Regions from separate parts of the Homo sapiens genome. Here region 1 is linked to region 2. Evidence: fine-mapped QTL for protein levels in blood plasma. Region 2 holds a variant in brackets. A gene starts in the other region. All regions are shown on their reverse strands.

Region 1 (8,301 bases), not on the chromosome of region 2:
GCGGTTGAAGCGTGCATACAGGTAGGCAGTCCTCCGAGGAAGAGGAGGAATGTCCTCTAGGTCAATGTCATCGCAATACACAGAGGAACCGAGGCACACGCAGACCAGGCAGGTGGGCAGACCTGGCCCAGGTGGAAGACAGAACAAAGGGAGATCTCTTTAGCCTCTGGGGCCAATGGCCCTCGCCCCAGGGAGTGTCTGAACCATGGCCATCTGTGCCTTTTTGATAGCCTATGGGTTGCTGCCCAGAACTGACGGGCACCATGTACACGGTGCTGTTGTCTGCTCCCCTGTCACTCTGTCCTCTACCCCAGAGAGGCAGGTCCATCCTCAGTTACTACCCAGCCCAAGCCCATTTATACTTTCAGCAGACCCTGGTTCTGTGTACATTTTCCTGGGCCTATGTGGGTGTTTCTAGGAAATCCCTTGGTCTCTTTTCCACAGGATTCCTCTCTGGTCCCAAAAAGTAAAGCCAGAATTAAGTGGGATGGCCAGTGGTTGCTGGCTCTGCCATCTGCCTTGGGGAAGAGAAATTAGACATGTTCTGTGTGGCTCCAAGAAGCACAATAGAACCAAGGTGGAGTACAGTGCCTACCCAGCAACCACTTCCCCTTCTTATGGCATCAGCATGCCAATTTTTCTTTGGGAAGCAGCCCTCTCCTGTTCTGTCCATGACCCTGTCTCTGTACCCACGGGTAATGAGGTTAGGCCAGGTCAGCCACCCCAAGTAGTTGGGGAGACTTTATTGGATCATACAACTGAATAGCGCAGGTGGTTTCTGTCACTTGCTATCACAAGGCACAGAGATTACTGAGAGACCAGTTTAGCTCAACTCAAGGAATAACTCTGGTAGCAGTGACACAGCCCCCAGATTAAGGAGCTCTTCTCTGCCAGCAGTGACCAGGAGGAGTGGGTAGAGCAGAGGGGCCCCAGCATCTTTCTTATCCTGAGGCTTTGAATGGTGGATTCAGCTGAGGCCCTTTATGGCCTCTTTAAGCCTGAGACTGTAGCTCTGAGAGGTCATGGATTCCTGACTGAATGGTTTTCCTGCCAATGCCCCAATACCCCAGGTCCACCCAAGGCAAACATCCCGAGAAGAGAACAGGGAAACCGCGGGCAAGCAGGTCCAGAATGAACTTCACCCCTCCTCTGCCCACTTCTGATTTCCAGCAGATTGCTGAGGCCTCACTGCCAGGGATGCCAGCCGCAGCCTCCAGGAGGGCATCAGGGAAGGAAAGAGAGCTGCTGAGGAGGGACTTTGAAGCTGAAAAGCAGTGTGACTGCTTCATTTGCTCCCATGCCAAGTGACAGCCACAAAGTTAGTTATTCTTCTCTACAGGCTTTTAATTGTCTGTAATCTAATTACCACTCAACCTGCTTCCCCCGTCATGCTATTAATTAAGGCAGGGTGGCTTTGCTAGGGCATAAGGGAGTTCTTGCATTTCTTTGCTTCTTACTCAACTTGTACATTCAGGCAAAAGTATTAGGGACAGCCAGTGCCAGTCTTTGATTTCTTTTTTCCTGTTCTTACTGTGGCTATTTCCCCTTCTCTCCCTGCTAGTAAGGGTAGCCCTGACCCTCCATGCCCCAACCCCAACCACGTTCCACTTTGGTACCCCCTGGTGCTGGGTCATAGCTGCTTGGCCTATGACCTAGGGATATTGCGACCATGTGACTGTGCACTTACCATGGTTGGGCTGGGAACTCAGTAGCAGCCCTGCTGTAGTAGGTCTGGTCATCGTGGGGTTTGACGAGGGTGTCCCTGGAGCCGTAGTGCTCTTGGCGGGACTGATGCTGGTTGCAGGAGCGAGGCTAGTCACCTTAACCTGGAGATGTAGCACAGAGTACACAGTAGCCCAGCTTTTGCACAAAAGGGACTTAACTTTGGACTCTGGGAACCTCAGTGATGGATTTCAAACCAGCAAAGAGTCACTGTGGAGGAGGAGGAGGGAAGGATAGCAGAAAGACTGTGCAAAAAGGGGACCTGACAGAGCATCAGGTCCAGCATGTCCATCCTATGGATGAAGAAACTGGGGCCCAGAGAGGAGAGGGATGAGGATCAAAGAGCCAGCAGGTGGTCAAGGCAGAGACGAAACCTGCTCTCCCGATTTCCCAGGCCGGCACTCTTCCCCTGCTCCACACCGACCAGGCTCACGCACAATTGAGTAGGGGCTTCTGGGCTTGCACCCCACGCTGCTGCAGTGAAGGCCAAGAGGACCTGGGAAAGAACTTCAGACTGGAGGACAGTTTCAGAAAAGAGATGGGGGATGTGGCACTTTTATTTCCTAGAGAATATGATGAGGACATTGCGAACCCCTCCCCCAGTGAGACATAGCTTTGGCAGGGGGAGGCAAGTATGAGTTTTGAAGAAGGAGAAGTCCCAGGTTTGTGTCCTGTTTCTTAGTATCATCTAAGTGACAAGTCCCTATGGAGGGATAAGAATTTCCACCTCACAGAGAAAGAGGTGGAGGCTGGAGACACCCGCACTTTGGGGCAGATGGGAGGGCCCTGGCCTCTGACTCCCAGTGTCATGCAGGGAATGTAGTTGGTCTGCTGTGTCCCTCACCTCGGGGAGTTGGTCCCCATAATCTGTGAGCTCCTCATAGTTGCTCAGGTCAATGACTTCACCATAGTTGTCTGGGTTCAGGACATCATTCCGCAGAGGCAGAACTTCAAAGGAATCGCCTTCCCTGGGCATCTGCTCCTCTCTCCTCTTCCTCTCCTTCCTTGGGAGAGAAGCTGTCCCTGTCTCCTGCAGCACCAAGGCCAGCAGACTCAGGAAAGCCAGGAGCCTCATGGGGAGTCAGATGGGACTGAGAATCCCTTCAGCGGCTGGTCCTGGCAAGTGGGCACGAGGAAGGGCAGCGATCTGAGGGACAGGCTCTCCAGAGTGTTGTGGGAATGGCTCGCAGATTTACTCCACTTCCCACCCCCACACTTGCAGACTCAGTGCTCTCATCACATGCACAAATTCCCTACCAGCTGGGACTATGTCTTGGGGGGTATCTCCTAGCAGCCCCCTCCCTCCACCGCCCCACTTGAGTGTTTTTACACGCTCACCCAAACACTGATATTCACTCACAGAGGCATGTGCAGACACATCTCAACACAGACACATTCACAAGAGTCCCCTTGTTTACAAACGAGGCACACACTGGTGCATGCACACAGATGTCCTCTCTTAAACAACCCCATGCTCAGAACATGACTGCTAGTCACTAAGCTCGATTTAGAGAATGTCAACATCAAATAATCTTATGGGGTCTTTTTGTTTGTTTGTTTTTTTGAGACGAAGTTTCATTCTTGTTTCCCGGGCTGGAGTGCAGTGGTGCGATCTTGGCTCACTGCAACCTCCGCCTTCTGGGTTCAAGCGAATCTCCTGCCTCAGCCTCCTGAGTAGCTGGGATTACAGGCACCCACCATGCCTGGCTAATTTTTGTATTTTTAGTAGAGAAGGGGTTTCACCATATTGGCCAGGCTGGTGTCGAACTCCTGACCTTAGGTGATCCACCCACCCTGGCTTCCCAAAGTGCTGGAATTACAGGTGTGAGCCACCGCGCCCAGTTGACTCTTGTGGTTTTTTATAAAGATCATCCATTCATGCATTTGCTCAACAAACATTTATGGGTGTCTATTGAGTTCCAGGCACAGGACTTGTCTCTGTGGGTACAGAATGAATGAGGCACAGCCCTTCCTAGGAGCACCTAGTCTCTTTAGGAGACATGGACTTACAATGAAACATACAATGTAAAAAAGAATGTTAGTTTATGAAATATACTTCTAAATGCAGCTTTTTAGAAACAGATTATTACAGATAAAAGAGTTCTTTGTGTGTGATTGCATGAGTGTGTACGCATCTGGAAATTTCCTTAGATACCTGTGTATATTTGTGTGTGTGTGCACACAGATGCCTGCGTATGTATGTGATATGCATGTGAGTACAAATGTTCATGTAGTTCGTATATGTATAGACGGGTCAGGAAATGCATGTGGTGTGGTTTTGTATCCAGGCATAAGTGTATACAACAGTCATACCCAGTGTAGGCTTAACACAGCCCTCCCCAAAGCTAGCTGCACAAGTTTCTAGTAGACTCTCCCTCTTTCTTTCTTTTAAAATTTTTTTTATCTTTTAATTTTTATTTTATTTTCTATTTTTAAGACGGTGTCACTCTGTTGCCCAGCCTGGAGTGTTATGGCATGATCTCAGCTCACTGAAGCCTTAACCTCCTGGGCTCAGGCAGTCCTCCTGCCTCAGCCTCCCAAGTAGCTGGGACTACAGGCGTGTGTTACCATGCCCAGTTAACCTCCCCACCCTTTCTTAATTTTAGCTGGGCAAGGGGGCAAGCCTCTAGCAGTAGCAAGAGGTGTTTCTTCACCTTACCTCCCATACCTCACCCCAAACGAATTACATAATCTCAAAAAAAATTTTTCTAAGAGAGTTTAGTGCCCACCCAAAAGTCTTGTCCAACTTCTTTGGCCAGAGGCCTAAACTCTCTTCATTTTCCCTTCCCAATCCCCTGCCCCAGCCAAACACTTTGCCCTCATTTGCGCACCGATGGCCAGAGGCCTCAACCTTGAGCCTTACCCCTTCAATGCTTCTGGATCCTGGATGGAGAGCCCTGCAGCTTCCAGAAAGGTGGGGACTCTGGTGGAGGCTGTCTGAACTGGGGCTTGGGTTAGACAGTGGTGCCCGGGGGAGGGCAAGGAGTTGGCCAGGCCTGCGACCAATCAGACTTCTCATTCCTTCTGATGTCCAGCTGTTTCCCCTCCTCTTTCCTCAGGGGGTCCCCTGCCCCATTCCTGTATTTGACAAAAGAGAATTCTCCCCCCACCTTCCGCTTCACCCCCCACCTCCAGCTCCTGCTCTCTCTCCTCTTACTCTGTCAGCTCCTTCTTTCTTTTCCTTGTCCACTCTCCTGATAAGGCCACATCTTTGAGGAACAGGGAGTGCCATCCCCTGCAAGGAAGGGGCCCCATCCCTCAGATTCTGAGTCCTCAGAGAAGGCTGGAGTCGGGGGATATGGAGAGATAGAGCTTGTCTTTGCAGCTTCTTTCTCCAGCCAGAGAGTGACAAGGCTTCAGCTTCATAGCCAGAATCCAAAGATAAAAATAGGTGGAAATGAGGCACTTCACCCTCACCTAGAGCGCCAGCACAGAGACCATAATTGAATAAAATCACCAGAGACAGGAGCTGCAGGCCTAGGTAGTTCAAAGAGAAGGTGTATGGGGGATGAGATCGGATTTGAAAGCCAACTTCAAGTTCACAGATGATGATCATGAGGATACGGGAAATTCTCTAAATCTGCTAGGAGGAAACCAAATGGAAATTGGGAGGTGGGCCCTAGAAAGGATCATAAACACCAGTAGACATTGTGTAGGGTCTCGGGGGCCTGGGAAGTATCCTCTCCCGCACCCTCAGAGATGTACAGTCGTCCCTCAGTAACCATGGGGGATTGGTTCTGCACGTCCAGTGGATACCAAATCCACATATGCTGAGGTCTTTTATATAAAATGGTGAATTTGCACATAACCTACGCACATCCTCCTGTGTACTTCAAATCATCTCTAGATTACCTATAACACCAAACACAATGCTTACACCTCACTCCATTCACATGGATTCCACATAGTACTGGCACACAGCAAATTCAAGTTTTCCTTTTTGGAACGTTGTGAATTTTTTTTTTTTCTGAATATTTTCAATCTGTGGTTGGTTGAATCCACGGATGTGGAACCCACAGATACAGAGGGCCAACGGCATTCATCTGGAAACACTCCCCTTTCCTTGGTGCCTCGAGCAGGCTGCCGAGCAAGTCCTTGCTGAAGGCAGAGGTGGGGTGGCTAAGGAGTCTTCCCCAGCTTCTGCCAGCCTGTGCCCTGGCGCCCACCCAGGTTTCTCAGTGACTCTCCTTGTTCCCTACTCCTTTCCACCAACCAGATACTGAATTCCAGCTGTGAGGCCCCCTAAAGATCTAGTCCAAGTCCTTGTGGTATAGATGAGGAGAGTGAGGCCCAAAGAGGTGACGTGACTTGCCCTAGGTCACACAGAGCCAGGGCCAATGCCTAGATTTTTTGACTCCCTGGTCAGAGAGTTTTCTTTAGTTCATATGACCCTCCCCATTTCCACCTTCTTCCCCAGGAGTCCTGAATCCGTGTGTTTCCAGGCCCTCAGAGCAGATGGCTTGGCAGAACTCATCTCTGCCCTGGCACACCAGGTGAAGAGGCAGATCTAATAGCCTGGCCCTCGAGGGCAGCATTTGGCTTGCTGTGTTCCTGGGCTCCAGCTGGTGCAAGAGGGGGCTTCCCTCAGCCCAAGAGCCTGGTCACCAGAGAAGAGCATGTTCTTGTACCCCTGGCAGCCCCCCACCTGGGAAAAGACACCATCAGAGGCTCTGCTGGGTGGAGGGAAAGATAGCCCTGGATCCTGGAGGGCATCCAGTAGGCAGATGGCACATTTGGCGGGCTGTATGCCTCCATCTTCTCTCCACAGCCTGGGCTTTGCAGCCAGAGGCCCTCCACCCCCACAGCCAGCCTAGGCAATCTCCCCGCTCCCACCCCACACATTTATTCCTGGGAGAAATGCAAATGCGAGTGTTCATTCACTCTCCCTGCCGCCTGCTCCCACTCTCCCTCCCTGCTTTCCCAGAGACATACGCTCCTGCCATCCCTGCTTGGTTGCCACACCCCCACCATCGTTCCTCCCCAATGCATACACACCTGCTCCCCCCACTCCCTGCAGGAGCCACATCCAGACTCAGGCTCGCATCCTAGACCCTCTCCCAACTTCTCCTCTTGCTTTCCCAAGCTCACAGGTCACACACTCTTGTTCTCATGAATATTAGGGGCTGTCCATGGATGTGTACATGTGACCTGGTGGGGGAAACGGCTAACCCCGCAGACTGCTGTTCCAGGCAGCCCAGCTCCCCAAGAGCCTGGCAAAGGAAGCAGGAGGCGGGGGAGGCGTCCTAATCCTAATCTCTCATTAGGAGAGGCAAAAGGCGTGTTGATGAATCGGAGGCGGCAGGTGGTATGGACAGAAGTTTGACCAGCCAACCCTGTTGTTGCCCTTTTCATGGATAGGGAGAGAGAGGCGGGGAAGTTCAGGAACCCTCCTGTGTTTTGGATGACAGGGGTATATCCCCTGCTGAGGGCTTGTAGCCACATAACTCCACTCCATGACCGGAACATGACCCTCTCCTCTTTTTCAGACACACAAGCCCCACAGGGTAGACTCCACACCTTCCTACCTTTGTACTCATGCTGTTTCCTGTCCAGGTGGCGTCTTTTTTTCTTTCATCCACCTGGCAAAATCTGATTTATCCCTTAAGAGCCAGCTCACATGGTAGGAGTCTTTCTGGTTTTCCTCAGGTAGAGGTAAAAGCCCTTTCCTTTATACTGTTCATACACAGTAGTTTCACTCGTGTCTGTGTGAAGCGACCACCAAACAGGCTTTGTGTGAGCAACAAGGCTGTTTATTTCACCTGGGTGCAGGCGGGCTGAGTCCGAAAAGAGTCAGCGAAGGGAGATAGGGATGGGGCCATTTTATAAGATGTGGGTAGGTAATGGAAAATTACAGTCAAAGGGGGTTGTTCTCTGGTGGCCAGGGGTGGGGGTTGCAAGGTGTTCAGTGGGGGAGCTTTTGAGCCAGGATGAGCCAGGAGAAGGAATTTCACAAGGTAATGTCATCAGTTAAGGCAGGGACCAGCCATTTTCACTTCTTTTGTGGTGGAATATCATCAGTTAAGGTAGGAACCAGCCGTCTGGATGTGCACATGCAGGTCACAGGGGATATGATGGCTTAGCTTGGGCTCAGAGGCCTGACACACAGCATTATTACAAACACTTAGGACACAGAGGTATCCATTCATGGATTTCTTTCCCTTTACCAAGGTATGAGTTCCTCAAGGATGTGCTGCTATGTATATTATCCATCCTTGAATGCGTAGCTGGGGACCTGGCATGTGACCGATATCCACTGAACATCCGTGAAGTGAACCGAAGTCGATGTTTAGTAGCCAGGTAGGAGCAGCGAGGGCGTCACCTGGCAGTTCTCATTCTAAAGAAGATGGTGTAGCCTGGGAGGGTCATGAATCCCACTTTTGCAACCAACCTTCCCTCAGAAGAGAGAGTCTGGGACACCCTGTTCTAACCCTTCGGTGGACTTCCGCATGGCATGTAGACCATTCCAGATGACTTGGTCTATGCTCTCTGTCCTTGAGATGGCTCTTTTACTGTTTTGTATGCACACTACATCTCCCCAGTTAGTCTGTAAGCTTTACTTGGGCAGGAAAGACGACCGTT
Region 2 (8,334 bases):
ACACTGCATGGTAGAAAATACAGCACAGAAAATCTATATGAGTGATAGAAGAGCCCTGTCATAATTCTTCTTTCCAAGAACTTTGCTTCTTCCTCTTCAGTTAGAAAATAAGTTATTTTTTTTTAGGTCCTGCTGTCAAAATATCTAGGTCCTTACTCTACTTCATTATTAAGAGAATGCAACTATAGGCCAGGCATGGTGGCTCACGCCTGTAATACCAACACTTTGGGAGGCTGAGGTGGGAAGATTGAGCCCAGGAGTTCGAGACCAGACTGGGCACCATAGTGAGACACTGAATCTAAAAAAAAAAAAAAAAAAAAAAAATTAAAAAAATTAGCCAGGCATGGTGGCATGCACCTTTGGCCTAGCTACTCAGGAGGCTGAGTCAGGAGGATGGCTTGGGCCTGGAAGATTGAGGCTACAGTGAGCCGCAGTTGTACCACTGCCCTTCAGTCTGGGAAAGAGAGTGAGAACCTGTCTCAAAAAACAAAACAAAACAAATCAAAAACCACAATGCAACTATAAAACCAGAATCTAAATAAGTAATCTTATTTTAGTGCTAAGTGAGTTACCTTGTGGTTTATCTTTTATTAAGGCTGTCATTTTCTTAAAGGGCAAATCCCATGTCTGATTGTACATTTTCTCTTCCTAGGGGATGAGAGGTGGAATCACCACCATAGTCATTAACAATAATAATCACCATCTGTATCAATTATCTACTGTTGGATAATAATCTACCTCAGAATTTAGTGGCTTAAAACAACAAATGTTCATTATTACTTACAATTTCTATGAGACAGTCATTTGGAAAGTACTTAGCTAGGTAGATATGGCTTAGAGTCTTTCAAGAGATTGAGCTACATCGTGAGCTGGGGTTACAGTCTTTGAAAGACTTGACTAGGGCTGCAGGATCCATTTCTACAGTGGTTCACTGGCATGGCAGAAAGTTGGTATGGGCTGGTTGGTGTGTGGCCTCAGTTCAATGCCATGTTGATCTCTCCACAGAGTTGAGGGTCTTTTGACATATTGGTTCTCTTGACAGCTTTTTATAGACTGAGCAATCCAGGAGAGCATGATGGTCCCTAAAATAACTTTCATGCCCTAACTTTGGAAGTCACATGCCATCCTTTTGTTTATATCCTATTGGCTATATGAGTCACTTCTATACAAGGGCATGAAAGCTAGGAAGCATGGATTATTGGAAGCCATCTTAGAAGCTGTCTATCACATCATCATCATCATCATCATCATCATCATCATCATCATCATCAACTTTTGAATGAATGACTTAAGCAATGAGAAATATACAAACATTAAGAAACGTGCTCTCTAGATAAAATTTCTTTAAAGGGAAAACTATATTTTAGATGTGCTTTCTTCACTCCTGACATGACATTCTTTACTTTTTAGTTGGAAGTGGGCAACAATAATTTCTACCTAAACTTAATGCCAATTAACACAGTAATTACAAGACAGTAGCTAGTCTTACATGATAATTGATGATAATTGCTTCCTGCTTTAATTGCCTTATAAACAAGACTGCAATAGCAATCCAAACATTTCCTCAAAAGAAAAAAAACAAACAAGAAAATTTGTCAAAGTCATTTGCAAGTTGATAAGGAGCTAACAAATCCAGCCTACATGTCTGCAAGTCATGAAAGCAGCTGCTGGCAATGCATGGCACTTCCTTGGAGGATTTCAGTGGTGGTGAGAGCTTCAGGCTGGGTGGTGTCAGCTCCTGGATGCTGCAGAGACGTGTGCTGAAGCCTAACTGTTGGCAGCAGTTGTACCAGTGTGCTGAAGTGCTTAATGAAACTTTGCCAGTGTGGGAACCACCGCAGGTTCATCAGTGAATGGTGGGGCAATGTCTCTCCCTTGTTGCTGCCTGTGCCCTCTGGAAAGATGGGTTCAAAGCAAAATGAGGAGAGGATGAAGATTAGTGTCGTTTTTGTTGAGAAAAGCTCTAGAAGTCTGTATATTATACTATCCAAAAGCGAAGGGGAAACAAAACAAAGAAAGGCACTTCATTCTGGTAAATGAGCTAGCTTAGGTGTGTTAGAGAGAGAAAGGGAACCACATATGAGGCAGGTTAAACTCTTAAAAACTCAGCTGAGTCTAAGTAGGTGAACAACAGATGGAAATGAATGAGTGGTAGTATGTCCAAATAGACAAGAAATAAAAGGAGAGATGGAAGAAAGAAAGGTTGTCCAAGAAAGGAACTTTAAAAACCTGAGGCAGCATCTTAAGGGCACGTTGCAGAGGTATTTGTCCTCCCTCTTTCCCTAGGACATGTGCCTCAGAAACATCAATAATGGTTGCTGTTCAGTAACCCATTAAAGATGATTCCCCAGTGAGAAAAAATGTGGAAACTAGAGGAAAAAAATACCCTATGAAATTGATATCTTGAATGTAAGCAATTCCAACTAGGAAGCAGAGTAGACAACCACTGGGACACAGGAGCAGAGACATGCTCCCAGGAGACTGTGGGGCTTATTCCAATAAGTTGGAATGCTTGTTAAATTTAAAAGTAGGGGTGCCAGACCCTTAAGACTCAGAGGGAAATGGAAATTGAGATGTTGGAAGATGCAGGATGGAAATTAAAAACATCTTGAGTAAGAACTGATGACTGAGAGTGTCACCATCGTAACATTTGAAACTGTGCTAATTTGGCAACTCTCAAATGCTACTCTCTGGAAAATGAAAAAGCATGCATGGGTGGATTTCCCTACTCAATATGGCAAACCAGTGTCGTAACATGGTTTTATGACACTCCATCTGGTAGAGAGTGCCGTGTTTAGTCTCACAAGTCACGAGCCCTGGACAATCATCGTTAGAATGAGCAGTGACTTGGTCATGATGATGTTGAGAAAGATCACTTTCCCCTACCCTCCCCTTCTCTCAGTTTCATTTTTGGTGGCTATCCATTCTTACGTTCTGGGAACATCATTTTGCTTGGTAAAATTGCCCTAGGAACTGAGGATTTACTTTTCCAATGTCATGAGTGTGGGCCCAGGGCTGTGATAATCTTATGCATTCTGTTAACAGTTTAGACTCTTAAAATCATGAAGCTCAAAAGAACATTTTTTGTTGTAGTCCTAAATAAATGGATGTCTAAACGAACAGCCCAGACGGGACTCCTGAAGGAACCTCAGTCTTATCTCTACCTCAGCTATACCTCTGAATGAAAGTCTAGGCTGAGGTTGAGCATAATAAAACCAAAATTAGGGATGTTGAATTTTTGACTTTTTAAGACTTTCTGTTGATTACGTTAATGCTAGTTGCCATAACAAGCAAACCCTGGACTTTTGACATAAAATTCTGTCTTTTGTGGTGATAGAGTGTTTGCCCTATGCAGTCCTATGAAAACTCATTCTGATGAAGACTTTGGTAACATGGTTGCGTGATCTGTAGGGTTATTCTTGTTGTAGATATTCATCAGGTGGAGGGGACAAATGAGAGAGAATGGAGGAACATATCCAGGCTTTTATGAACCTGGTCTGGACCTGGGGGAACATACCACTTCTGCCCCCATCTCATTGGCAGAACTCAACTATTTGGCCACACTTAGATGAAAGGGAGTCTGCAATGTGGGATTGGCAGCCAATTCCAAATAACAATTCTATATCATGAAAGAGGACCTTGAATCTTTATTTTTGTCTGTTTTGTGATGGAGTCTCACTTCTTCACCCAGGCTGGAGTGCAATGGTGCAATCTCAGCTCACTGCAACCTCCACCTCCCGGATTCAAGCAATTCTCCTGCCTCAGCCTCCCCAGCAGCTGGGATTACAAGCATGTGCTACCACGCCTGGCTAATTTTTGTATTTTTAGTAGCTACAGAGTTCCATCATGTTGACCAGGCTGGTCTTGAACTCCTGACCTCAAATGATCCACCTGACTTGGCCTCCCAAAGTGCTGGGATTATAGGCATGAGTCACCGTGCCTAGCCAGGACCTTGAATCTTAGTGAAAAGCTCTGCCATAGGCCACAGACTTTTAGCTGACAAAGGCAAGAGAATTTATTTGGGCCTTTACTTCCTTTACACAACAAATGCTTCATATTTTATCTTGCAAAAGGACTTGAATCTCTGGAGTTTAATTTCTTTCTGCAAATACAATAATGAGGCTGGTTTTTATTCAACTTCAGGGCATTTCCATGTAATTGACTTCAAGTTATCAAGGTATCTTTCTGTCATTCTTAAAACTTATCACAGAATCTCCCATGAGTAGTATTAGACAATTTGTCTCAACATAACTGGAGGTGGGAAAAAGAACTAGTAGTACATTTTCAGCTTGTATGTAGAGGTTTCTGAAGTTCATGTAATGAATTGATTATTCAGATAATTTTAGAAACTTTTACAGGCAAAATCTAAATTACCCATCCACAGTTTCAGGGTGACACTGGAAGAGCGGTTGGTATTGAATGTGAGGTCCTCCCCTGAAAAGCATAGCCTCACTCCTGTTTTGGGTTAGATTAAAAATCAAACCCCAATGAACTAAGAGGGCCAAGGTCAAAGAAATGTTAGGGTGGATTGTTTGTTTCTTGCTCCTTCGTTTTGCTTTAAAAGACTTCCTAACACAGTACTCCTGGCCCCTTGTGCCCAATGGACACACTGGGTTTGAGGGGCCCTGACTTGTGGCCTCCTCTCTTTTTGGGGTGAACCTGCAAATGGAAAGCATTCTAATCTGGGCTCTTTGTAAAGTACACTGGGCCACAGGGACCTGCATTTTGGAGGAAGGGCCACCTTAATTCCCAGGAACATTATAAGCTTGTTTGGTTGCCCAGCTTAGCCATGTCCTGTTTCCTAATTTATTTTCACTGGTCATGAAGCTGGCATTAGAATTTCCGTCTGTCTGATTTCATATCACCATATGTCAGTTGATTGGAACTCGGCGGGTGTTCTATTTGGACCCATCAAACCACAATTACAGACTGAGTTGGATTCCTGGCTCTCCTGTTTACT[ATCTATATAGTACTG/G]AGAATTTTGCTTAGTCTTTTTGAGCTTTAGTTTCTTGCTCATTAGGTAGGGGTAATACCTCTTCACAGTATTGTTGTGAGAATTAGATGTATTAATGACCGTAAAATGCTTTGTATAGGCTGGGTGCGGTGGTTCATGCCTGTAAGCCCAGCACTTTGGGAGGTGAGGTGGGCAGATCATGAGGTCAGGAGATGGAGACCATCCTGGATAACACGGTGAAACCCCGTCTCTACTAAAAATAAAAAAAATTACCCTGGAGTGGTGGTGGGCACCTGTAGTCCCAGCTACTCGGGAGGCTGAGGCAGGAGAATCGCTCAAACCCAGGAGGTGGAGGTTGCAGTGAGCTGAGATTGTACCACTGCACTCCAGACTGGGCAACAGAGTGAGACTCCATTTCAAAAAAAAAAATCCTCTGTATAATACCTAGAACATAGTAAGGACTCAATAAATTATATTATTTATTGTTATGACACAATTTTTTCAGGGTAATCTTGTGTCATGTGTGTTGTATTGGAAAATAATCAACTTTTACCTTATCTTTTGGTTATTTACAGTGACATATTGTCATAGTTTTGTTTGTACTCCTACAACAAAGTACCACAGCCTAGGTAATTTATGAACAATAGATATTTATTTCTCACAGACCTGGAGGCCGGGAAGTCCAAAATCAAGGCAGGTTTGGCATCAGGTTAGGTCTCTTTCCTCATAGGTGGCACTGTCTAGGTGTCCTGATGTGGCCAAAGGGATGGAAAGGACAAGACGGGACAAATAATATGTCCTCATATGGTAGAAGAGCATGAGAACAAAAAGGGCCTAGGCTAGTTCCTGTCTACCCTTTTAAAAGACACGCATCCATTCACTGAAGCAGAGTCTTCATCACTTTATCACTTCCCAAAAGGTCCCACCTCTTAGTACCACCACAGTTAAACTTAGTACCACCAACACTTAAACTGTGGGAGCCATTCAGACCATAGCCCATGGAATGACCAGTGCCTGTGTTATCTGCAAGTACTAGGAATGACAAATTCAGCAGGGGCAGCAGCAACAGGGTCAGAAAGAGGAGAGGGCTGGGGAAGGATTTCCAATATTTTAAGATGCATTTAGTCTGGGCAATTTTCCAACTATACCCCACCCAGCCCAATTAGATAAAACAAGTATACTCACACAGATAGTCCCCACATGCCCACTTTTGTGTTTTTTGTTTTGCTCCCTCACTTTCTGTCCTTTCCACTTACAGGTTCCTTTGCTCTAGTCAACTCTGATCTCAATTAGGACCAAATTTATCTTGTAGACTTTGAACTCTGGGTGCTAGAAAGTAGCACTTAGGGCATGATTGGCTCTCAGTAAGTGTCGAGCTGTAATGGAGGCATGCTTCATCCTCTCATAACACTCCTGTAATTCAGAGGTCCTCAGTTTTTGCTTCCCTGTCCCAATATACCTGAGAGATAGGATAAACCTCGATCCACTCCTGGTGATTATTATGGGAGTGGTACTTTCCTAATGGAAAGTATGTAAAAACCTGTGGCTGAGGAGTGGGAGAAAGAGGGTGGTTGTAGTAATTAAAAAAATTTAACTTTTATGCGTACATAGTAGATGTGTATATTTATGAGGTATGTGAGATATTTTGATACAGGTATACAATGTATAATAATCATATGGTGTATTCATCACCCCAAGCATTTATCATTTCCTTGTGTAAACATTCCAATTATACTTTTAGTTATTTTAAAATGTATGATAAATTATTGCCAACTGTAGTCACCCTGTTGTGCTATGAAATACTAGGTCTTATTCATTCTATCTAACTGTATCCCTGTACCCATTAATCATGTCCACTTCCCCCACTTCTTCCTCACTACCCTTCCCAGCCTCTGGTAGCCATCCTTCTACTCTTTACCTCCATGAGTTCAATTATTTACCTTTTTAGCTCCCACAAATGAGGGAAAGCATACAAAGTTTTTCTTTCAGTGCCTCGCTTATTTCACTTAATTTAATGTCCTCCAGTCTCATCCAGGTTGTTGCAAATGACAGGATCTCATTCTTTTTTATGGCTGAATAGTACGCCATTGTGAATATGTGCCATGTTTTCTTTATCCATTCATCTCTTAACGAACACTTAGGTTGCTTCGAATCTTGGCTATTGTGAATAGTGCCCCAGTAAAAATGGTAGTGCAGATTTATCTTCAATAAATGGATTTACTTTCTTTTGGGTACATACCTAGCAGTGGGAGTGCTGAATCCTGTGGTAGTTCTACTTCCAGTTTTTAAAGGACCCTCCATACTGTTCTCCATAATGTTTGTATTTAATACTAATTTACATTCCCACCAACAGTATATGAGTGTTGCCTTTTTTCCATATCCTTGCCAGCATTCATTATTGCTTGTCTTTAGGACAAAAGCCATTTTAACTGATGGGATGAAATGATACCTTATTGTAGTTCTGATTTGTATTTTTCTGATAATCAATAATGTTGAGCATCTTTTCATAATCCTGTTTGCCATTTGTATGTGTTCTTTTGAGAAGTGTCTATTTAGATATTTTGCCCATTTTGTAATAAGATGATTATATATTTTCTGATTATTTTAGCTCCTTACATATTCTGGCTATTAATCTTTTGTTGGAATGGATAATTTACAAATATTTTCCCCCATTCTGTAGGTTGTCTCTTGACTTTGTTGAGCATTTTGTTTACCCTGTAGAAGCTTTTTAACTTGATATGATCCCATTTGTCCATCTTTGCTTTGGTTGCTTGTACTTTTAGGGTATTATTCAAGAAATCTTTGCCCATAACAATGTCCTGGAGAGTTTCCCCAATATTTTCTTTTAGTAGTTTCATAGTTTGAGGTTTTAAATTTAAATCTTCAATCCATTTTGATTTGATTTTTGTATATGGAGAGAGATAGAGGGATAGGGGTCTAGTTTCATTATTCTACATATGGAGAGCCAGTTTTCACACACTATTTATTGAAGAGACTGTCTTTTTCTCAGTGGATATTCTTGGCACTTTTGTCAAAAATGAGTTCACTGTAGATGTATGAATTTATCTGTGGATTGTCTATTCTGTTCCATTGGTCTATATGGCTGTTTTTATGCCAGTACCATGCCTTTTTGATTACTATAGTTCTAGTTTAATTTGAAATCAGATAATGTGATTCTTCCAGTTCTGTTCTTTTTGCTCAGCATGACTTTAGCTATTCTGGTTCTTTTCTGGTTCCATGTAAGTTTTAGGATTTTGTTTTCTATTCTGTAAAGAATGTTGCTATTATTTTGATAGAGATTGCATTGGATGTATAGATCACTTTGAGTAGTATGGACATTTTAATAATATTGAGTCTTACAGTACATGAACATGGAATAT

Direction of the effects. Alleles are on the strand shown, and positions count from the first base shown. The strength of an association depends on the size of the effect and on how common the allele is.
For the plasma level of the protein whose gene starts at base 4,650 in region 1, allele G in region 2 goes with a higher level than allele ATCTATATAGTACTG (moderate association).

What was found. PIP is the posterior inclusion probability: the model's chance that the variant is causal. Protein levels are from antibody-based Olink assays in UK Biobank. Linkage for the fine-mapping came from a reference panel and not from the study's own genotypes, which makes the PIPs less certain.
Region 1: it holds the start of OPTC, and the variant in region 2 is fine-mapped to the plasma level of the OPTC protein (UK Biobank, PIP above 0.99).

The regions. Positions count from the first base shown.
Region 1 is chr1:203,490,502-203,498,802 of GRCh38, reverse strand. OPTC (opticin) reads right to left here and starts at 4,650. Exons shown (of 8, transcript NM_014359.4): 1 at 4,586-4,650; 2 at 2,567-2,838; 3 at 1,688-1,826; 4 at 1-122. The coding sequence starts at 2,797. PRELP (proline and arginine rich end leucine rich repeat protein) reads right to left here. Exons shown (of 3, transcript NM_002725.4): 3 at 7,451-8,301. RefSeq lists a silencer at 4,929-5,157 and an enhancer at 6,545-7,343.
Region 2 is chr8:134,247,342-134,255,675 of GRCh38, reverse strand. No RefSeq gene overlaps it. Among named protein-coding and RNA genes, the nearest start is that of ZFAT, 460 kb to the left of the region's middle. The variant ATCTATATAGTACTG/G (reference allele first, on the strand shown) is at 4,961.